Linked DNA regions of Homo sapiens: region 2 is linked to region 1. The links come from fine-mapping of genetic effects on gene expression. A gene starts in region 1. The other region holds a variant in brackets. All regions are shown on one strand. Distances are between the middles of the regions.

Region 1 (4,383 bases):
CAGGATCCTAGCCCTGAGGTTCCATTGGTACCTCAGGTTTAATTGGTAGAGGGGGTGTGGCCTGGGTATTGATGTTATTAGCTCCCCAGTGGTTCTCACCTGCAACCAAGGTTGAACACTCCTGCCCTGAATGAGCCACCTGCTTCTACCACAGGAGAACCTCCCCAACATAGGCACCCCATTAGGGAGACAGCTTACCCAGGGGAGAATACACCCTTGGGCTCAAGCTCAAATCCTGGGTCTATCCCACTCTAGGTAGGCTACTTAGGTTTAGACACAGCACTCTGTGCCTTAGTTTCCTCATATGTAAAGTGATGGTAGGCCAGGTGTGGTGGCTCATGCCTGTAATCCCAGCACTTTGGGAGGTGGAGGCAGGTAGATCACTTGAAGTCAGGAGTTTGAGACCAGCCTGGCCAACATAGTGAAACCCTGTCTCATACTAAAAATACAAAATTAGCCGGGCATGGTGGTGGGTGCCTGTAGTCCCAGCTACTCGGGAAGCTGAGGCAGGAGAATTGCTTGAACCCGGGAAGTGGAGGTTGCAGTGAGCTGAGATTGTGCCATTGCACCCCAGTCTGGGCAATGAGCGTGAGACTCAAAAAAAAAAATAATAATAAATAAATGAAAATAAAAAATAAATCCCAGTCCTGCTGGTTGCTGACTTGGCAGGGCACCTTCGCTAGGTGCCTCTGTTTCTTTGTAAAATGGGGTCATGGAGTGCCCACACCACTGGTCTGTTGCAGACACTGGATGAGATCAGACGTGCAAAACAACGTGTTTCCCAGGCTCGAGTCACGTCTGCAGCCAGGAGGAAGCCCCAGTGGCTGTGCTAGGTCCCACCCCGGGAGATGCCCCTCACCTCTTCCCCTGAGGCTTACCTTATCCGCATCCACGGAAGGGCTGGGCGATGTCATCTTCACTGTGGCGTACGTGGGATCAGACAGGGGCCACCAGATGGTGGCGTCCTCCTTCTCAGAAATCACCGTGTTGGCCACATCGATCAAGACCCTCCCAGAGCCATGGATGGTGAAGCACTGGCACTTCTGGGGGGCACACCTGGTTTGCCCGGTAAGAGACACGCGTCAGGGCACAAACACCTTCTCAGCCTAGGAGATGACTGGCATGGGGGAGGGGACGGCTCCCGAATCCTCATTCTCCTTAGGGTGTTGAGGCAGAGTGGTCTGGGGTCCTTATTCCTACCCACCCCCTCCCAAAGGACCCCTGTGTTTGCTCTCCGACGGGCTCCAGCCCAAACCCCATCCCGCTACCGACACTGCAGAAGTTACCACAGCTACATCTTAGTAATAAGCACCCAATTCCCAAGAAGGGGGGAGCCACAAAGGATCCCCATAAAGAAAAAGATCAGGGCAAGCGACTCAGGAAGTTGTACTGTGACCCTGCTGAGTCACCTCCACCTGCAGGCTCCAGCATCTAGCAGTCTCCCTGGCCTGCTCCTCACAGCCCCCCGAGGCCAGCGTCCCCATGGTTTCACAGATAGGGGAACAGAGAGGCCAAGGCCCTTGCCTCACTAAGAGTCCATGGCAGCTGCTACAGGGCAGAGGCAGGATTTAAGTCAGAATTCTGCGTGGTTGGAACTGGGAGGCCCCCCACTAGAGACCCAAGGCTTCCCAAGATGGGGCAGGATAGTGAGGCTAGAGAAGTAACCCCCAACTCCCAGATCAAGGGGACTGGGTCCCAGGCCTGCCTGCCTGTCTGCCTGCCACCTCTGGCAGAGCTCCCAGCATCTCACCCGCTGAGATCCAAGCAGATTTCTGTGCCCAACACACAAACGGCATGGACAGGGCTGTCCAGGGACAGGTGGATGATACTCTGGAAGGACATGGCTCGGCCCTCCACGCTGACCATCCTCAGGCCTGCACCGCAGCCCTCACTCAGCACAGCAGCCTCAGACGCCCCAGGGCTCACCCTGCCCTTCCCTGTTATACAGTCCAGGCCTGTGCAGGCCACCCCCTTGTTAAGAAGGGGAGGGGTCAGCAGCTGCCCAGGTGTCACTGATTTTCCCTCTAAGAGCTTCCTGGTGGCTGATAGTCTGGGGAGCAGGTGGCATCAGAACCCCTTCATCACCAATTTATCAGGCACCTCGTGCCTGCAGAGCTGCAGGCCAGGGGAGTCTGAGGCCGGTTGCTTAGGCATCTGTGGCCTTCAGCTGGGAAGAGGAGGGGCTCTGGGAAGTCGGTGCCTTGGAGTGATCAACTTGGCCATGTTGCTGGAGGACTCAGCTGGAAGCTGTCGGGGCAAATACCTGCAGAGGGCAGTTGGGAGGAGTTGATGGTAGCAGTCAGGATGGCAATGTGTGGCAGCATGCCCAGGCTCTGGGGTCTCAGTTCTAGGGTGTGTGTCTCCTGGAAATTGACGAAGGAGCTCGGCAAAGTGCTGGACTGGTGGTTTGGTTTTGTTTTTGAGACAGGGTCTCTACCCATGCTAGAGTGCAGTGGCGCAATCATAGCTCACTGCAGCCTCAACCTACCTGGCTCCAGTGATCCATCTCAGCCTCCCAAGTAGCTGGGACTACAGGTGTGCACCACCATGTCCAGCTGATTTTTGTATTTTTTGTAGAGACCGGGTTTTGCCATGTTGCCCAGGCTAGTCTCGAACTTCTTGATCCCAGAAATCCTCCTATCTCGACCTGCCAAAGTGCTGGGATTACAGGCGTGAGCCACAGCGCCTGCCTAGACTAGGTGGTTATTAACCCTCTGGTGGTTTCAAAAATTATCAAGGGTGCTTGTTAACATTGCAAATTCCTGGGCCCAGAAGGTCTAGGGTGTGGTCCAGGAACCTGCATCCCAACCCCCAGTGATTAAGGTGAGCTCTTTGCTTACAGCTGTGTCGGTGGGGGTGGGGGCACAGCAAGTGTTAGTGGAATGAATACATCAAGCCAGGGTCATCAGCTGCTACTCATCTCAGCGGAGCCCACAGAGCAAAGAAATAGGAACCCTTCTCTGGCACAAGGAACTTACATAACTGACTTTAAAATTGTGTTCATTTCATGTCTTAAGCTTGGGTTGAGTTTTTTTTTGTTGTTGTTTTTGAGACAGGGTCTCACTCCGTTACCCAGGCTGGAGTGAAGTGGCGTGATCATGGTTCACAGCCTTGACCTCCCAGGCTCAAGTGGTCTTCCCACCTCAGCCTCCTGAGCAGCTGGGACTACAGATGTGCACCACCATGCCCAGCTAATGGTTTTACATTTTTCCGCAGAGATGGGGTCTTGTTATGTTGCCCAGGCTGGGTCATGCTTACTCCTGAATAGGTACCACAGTCACATGATTCCAAGTTCAGAGTCTCCCTCCTGCCCTGTGCCTTACCCACCTGCAGGTGGAGGTAGTGACAGTGTTACCCGTTTCTTATATGTCTTTCCAAATAAATGTTATGCATGACCAAGTAAATATGTGTGTGTATCCTTTTCTTCTTCTCTTCCTCCTCCAATACTAGCATACAGTTAGATAAATTTGAAGGGGCTTTATGGTGAGAAAGGGAAGGACGTGGAGTCTATTTTAAGGTTAAGGGAAAAAGGCTTCTGCAGGTTCCTTCGAGGTTACATCTCGAGACTAAAGAGAAAAGTTGTAAAATGTGCTCAAAGTTAAGCTGCTTGGTTACAATTACAAACTTTTCAGTTCAGTGGAGATGCCCCTGGAAGCCCATTGGGTTATCTTTTTTGAGGAAGGACAAGGAGGTCATTTAGTCATTTGCTCCACTAGAATTGCTGAACACCTACTATGTCCGGGGCGCTTTTGCTCTTTTCTTCTCTCCTCCTACTACTGTCTTCTTATATAAACGGTAGTATGTGCCACCCAGTATTCCATACCTTGCCTCTTTCACTTCATAGTTATACTGGAGAGAAGTTCTTTGTATCAGTACGTAAAAAGCAGCCTTACCCCTTTGTACAGCTGTGTATTTTACATAGGGTTGTACTGTAATATAAACATTTGTTTTCAGCCTTTGCTCTAATATGCACCCAGGTGTACCCAGCATAGGAGGTGGAGATGAGGTACTGAGTGAAGCCTGTTCGGTCAGCCAGGCTGGCTAAATTTGCAAGTTGCAGTAAAAAATTCCCTCCCTGGAGGTTTTAAGCACTCAACACAACTCTCAAGGATGTCTCTGTTTTAGTTGCTCTTGGAGGCAGGGGGTTGGTCAGCAAGACCCAAAATGCCCCTCTGGTTGGATTGAAAGTGGCAAAATTAAGCAGGCAGGAAGCACTCAGCGTGCAGAGGCTCTGATGAGACTCATCCCAAAGGGCTCACCCACCCTCACGCACAAGCGGCCAGAGGCAGCTGGAGGGAGAAGACGGGTTGACTGGGGAGGGGTCGCTGAGGCCCAGTCCAGGCTCTGGGGTCTGGAGGAAGGCAGCCTGGAAGCTCTGACGTT
Region 2 (4,383 bases), 23 kb before region 1:
CCAATACAACCTGGCACTTTCTGCCTGTGACCCTCTCCAGGTTACATTACCTTTGTTCCTCAATTGCCTGATCTTTGGGACAGGGATGCCCAATTTATTTGCCAGCTCTGAGGTGATAGTCTTTGTCATGTGGTTCATGCTCAGCAGATGTCACCTTCCATGGTGCTTCTATGACCAGGAGTTCCCGGGCCCCAACCCCAAAGGCTGAGTATCCAGGAGGTGTGGAGCAGGGTGGAAATTCTACATTTTTAACAAGCTCCCAGGTGCGCTGGCCCTCAGATAACACTTTGAGTATTGAGGGTCTAGAAAAACCTAATACCCCCAGCCCCTTTCTGGGTTCCTACAGCCTTTATTATTTTTTGAGATGGAGTCTTGCTCTGTGGCCCAGGCTGGAGTGCAATGGCACGATCTTAGCTCACCGCAACCTCCACCTCCCAGGTTAAAGCGATTCCCCTGCCTCAGCCTCCCGAGTAGCTGAGATTACAGGCATGCACCACCATGCCCGGCTAATTTTCGTATCTTTAGTAGAGATGGGCTTTCGTCATGTTGGCCAGGCTGGCCTCGAACTTTTGGCCTCAGGTGATCTGCCCGCCTCAGCCTCCCAAAGTGCTGGGGTTACAGGTGTGAGCCACCATGCCCAGCCCACTCCCACAGCCTTTAGATCAGAAGTGCAATGGCACCAGCCACACCACCTCTGCTTGTCCACCTGTGTGTTTCCTTAATGTAACCAGGAGACCCACAAAGTCCCAGTCCCTAGATACTTAATCCAACATGCCCTGAATAAATCCAGGCACTAGCATTGTTAACACCCGTTTTCCCCCCACTTGGGGCCACCTATGTACTAAGTGAGTCCCCCTTCAAATACATCCAAACAGCCTCCAGGCCATCCCAGAACATCTGGTCTACTTGTGTTGTAGTACCACTAGAGCAGCCCAGAAATAAGACGTTCTAATATGGCAATTCCAACAGCTTCTGTGCTTCCCTGGCATCCTTTACGCCAAGCGTGACAGAATGGCTATGTAGAAAGGACCCCTGGAAAAAGGAAGACCCCAGTTCTGTTCTGTGGAAAGGGAGTTCCCTTACCATTAGACAGGAGCTGATCTGCTCTAAGCTCATCAAACAGAAGAGCGTCGCCATAGCCTTCCTTCTGTTTCTCTCGGAACAGTTTATAGCAGGCACTGGGGCTGGCCAGGAGCAGCAGGAAGCCCTGGGAAACAGAACTTGGGTCAGAAGCCAGCTTTCTCAGCTGGACATGGTGGCTCATATCTGTAATCCCAGCACTTTGGAGGCCGAGGCAGGCAGATCCTCTGAGGTCAGAAGTTCGAGACCAGCCTGGCCAACATGGTGAAATTCCATCTCTACTAAAAATACAAAAATGAGCCAGGTGTGGTGGCATGTTTCTGTAATTCCAGCTACTCAGGAGGCTGAGGCAGGAGAATTGCTTGAGTCCGGGAGGCAGTGGTTGCAGTGAGCGGAGATCACGCCACTGCACTCCAGCCTGGGTGACAGAGCAAGACTCTCAAAAAACAAACAAAAAAAAAAAAAAACAAGAAAAAGCCAGTTTTCTCTCCAGAATCTTCCAAGATTCCCCAACAGAAGGCAAGGGTCAGATGTCCCTTCTCCAGACCCCAAAGCAGACCTTTTTGCCCTCATTCTTGTCATCTGTGGGGATGAAGCACATGAACTCATCCACGTGGCCAGTCATTAGCCAATCTGAGTAGAGCTCCACCGGCGCTTGGACCTGCTGGGCATAGAGGAAGTCTCGGAGGGTCTTACTCATGGCCCGGCCCTCTGCGCTAGAAGGAAGATGGAAAGAACAGCTCTTGAGCCAGTGTGGCCCAGGGCTGGTCACCC[G/A]CCACTTGGTGTCATGCTGCCTCCAGGGAGCTGGCCTCTGACCGTTGTGTGAAAGAGGCCGGTCCATAGCGGATGTGTTGGTTACGAATCCCTTACTCTGACCCCACTCAGAACAGAGCCTAGTGTTTCTAGACAGACAAGCCCGGGCACAAGTATCATTTTGGATTTATGGCCACCAAGAAATCCAACCACATATCTCTTGGAAATGACATCCTGGTGGACCAAATTTCACTTGTTTCAGTTTAAACCCTGGAATCAAAGAATAAATGGTTTATTCTCATCTTTAGTCTCCCACGTGAATCAAAAGCTCAAATGTCTTCAGTTTAAGAAATGGTCCAGTGTGTGTGACCTGCTGAGGTGCTATGGGAAGCAGGCGGGGCCAGGGGAACGACCATGGTCCCTTCCTTTCATTTGGAGGCGTCTGGCTTTGTGGCTCACCTGGGGTAAAAGCTGCTGCCAATGAGGACTCTGCCCAGCGGGTACTCTTTCCCTTGGACCTTGACAGGTGGGGACACCATCAGGTTCCCAATGGAATCCATGCTGGCCACTTTATGGTCCTCAGTGTCCTGGATCATGTAGCCAATACCAGGGCTCTGGGGGAGAGACCGAGCCAGGGAAGGGGTGTTAGTAGGGGATGGCTTTAGGCCCCAGTCTTATCCCTAAATCCAGGCTCTCAGGTAGACTTCCACGTCCCCTCCCCCCTCAGAGGCCACCTGGGCCCTCTCCCCACTTGGTGCCCCATTATTTCTAGGCAGGCCCCAGGCCTGAGAGATTGGACTGAGCTCAGATTAGCCAAACCAAGTTCCACACCAGTGAGTACTTCATGGGGAACTCATCGAGATCGGCGGCCTGAGGTGTGTCGAGGATCAAGGACGTTGTCTTGTGGGGAGCCTGGGTGTAGCAGAAGGCCATCTCATCCTGGAATGGAGAGGAAGACAGATTGTTTGCCAGTCACACATCTCCCCGGACCCCATTTACGGAAAAGGTACGGTAAGAACCCCCTTCCTTCCTGCCAACTCCTGCTCAACCCTCAACACCCAGCTCAGATATCACCCCTTCTTGAAGGCTCTCCGATCCCTCTCTCCCCTACTCTTCAGGTTTAAGACTTGAGCATCCATGGCCAGGTGTGGTGGCTCACGCCTGCAATCCCAGCACTTTGGGTGGCCAAGGTGGGTGGATCACTTGAGCCTAGGAATTCAAGACCAGCCTGGGAAACATGGTGAGACAGTCTACTTAAAACAAAACCAAAAAGTTAGCCAGGCATGGTGGCTCATGCCTGTAATCCCAGCTACTCAGGAGGAGGCAGAGGCTGCAGTGGAGCTGAGATCGCGCCACTGCACTCCAGTCTGGGCGAAAAAGACTTGAGCATCCAGATTCTTCCTTTCTTCTTTCGTAAAGAATCCATTAACAAGCCTTACTGGCTTACATTCTGAGTCAGCTCTGCGCTGGTGCCACTCAGGAAGCCACCGTGTCTCCACCCTATGCCACTGTGATGCCTTCCAGTTTCGCTTCTATTCTTGCCTACTCTTAAGATCTGTTCCCTACATCTTAGCCAGAGGGGTCTTTTGAAAACCTGAACTATAACCTTTCATTCCCGATTCATGCTTTGAGTGTCTCTTGTTTGTCCTTAGCTTAAAAGGTACCTTAACCAGGAGGTAGCCCTGCCTTTCACCTTTGTTCACTGTGATCTGTCTGCATCAGCCTTCTTCAAGACCTCCAAGCACAACCCCAGATTTTTTTTTTTCTTTTGAGACAGTCTCGCTCTGTCATCCAGGCTGGAGTGTAGTGGCGTGATCTAGGTGCACTGCAACCTCCGCCTCCTGGGTTCAAGCGATTCTTCTGCCTCAGTGACCAGAGTAGGTGGGACTACAGGCGCGCGCCACCATGCCCGGCTGATTTTTGTATTTTTTTAGTAGAGACAGTATTTTGCCATGTTTTCCAGGCTGTTTTAAAACTCCTGACCTCAAGTGATCAGCCTCCCAATGTGTTGGGATTACAGGCTTGAGCCACTGCACCCGGCCAGGAACTCCTTTTAATCCTGGCCACCCCTGCCCCAAATCTCTGCATGGCCAGCTCCTTGTTTCCTTAAGTTTCATTTGCAGATTTTCCCAACTATTCTTAAACTGCCTCATTTGGTCTAATGAATCACTGTATCATCTCATTGTCTAAATTTCATAGCACTTAAAAGTTCTATCCTTGCTAACATGGGACAGCATATGTTCCAGTTTATCTCTGGTGCTCAGGATGGCGTGCCTAGCATGTGATGATCACTCATCTGCAGAGGACAGAGCTCTAGAACCGAAGGCTGACCGGGGCTCTAGACTTGGTGCTGTGCCAGAGTCAGGCGGGACCCCAGGGCAGTGGCCCAGCTCTCACAGCCTTAGCCAAAGGTATCAGAGCCTTCCGGGGCCTGGGGGTTAGGGTTCTGTGGTCTTGAACACGTGTCCATTCTGGAATGGGAAGGAGGCTGGACTCTAACTATTCCTTAGTGGCCATGACTCAGGCAAATCCTCATCTGAGCCTCCACTG

The links. PIP is the estimated chance that this variant, and not a neighbour inherited with it, causes the effect. A credible set is the group of variants that fine-mapping cannot tell apart.
Region 2: its variant is the best candidate, but not a certain one, in a credible set for the expression of PADI6 in whole blood (INTERVAL, PIP 0.70).

Annotation. Positions count from the first base shown.
Region 1 is chr1:17,369,729-17,374,111 of GRCh38, reverse strand. PADI6 (peptidyl arginine deiminase 6) reads right to left here and starts at 1,916. Exons shown (of 16, transcript NM_207421.4): 1 at 1,751-1,916; 2 at 879-1,056. The coding sequence starts at 1,866.
Region 2 is chr1:17,392,364-17,396,746 of GRCh38, reverse strand. PADI6 (peptidyl arginine deiminase 6) reads right to left here. Exons shown (of 16, transcript NM_207421.4): 10 at 2,665-2,772; 11 at 2,293-2,447; 12 at 1,640-1,796; 13 at 1,084-1,207. Among named protein-coding and RNA genes, the nearest start is that of PADI6, 22 kb to the right of the region's middle. RefSeq lists an enhancer at 1,827-3,026. The variant G/A (reference allele first, on the strand shown) is at 1,855.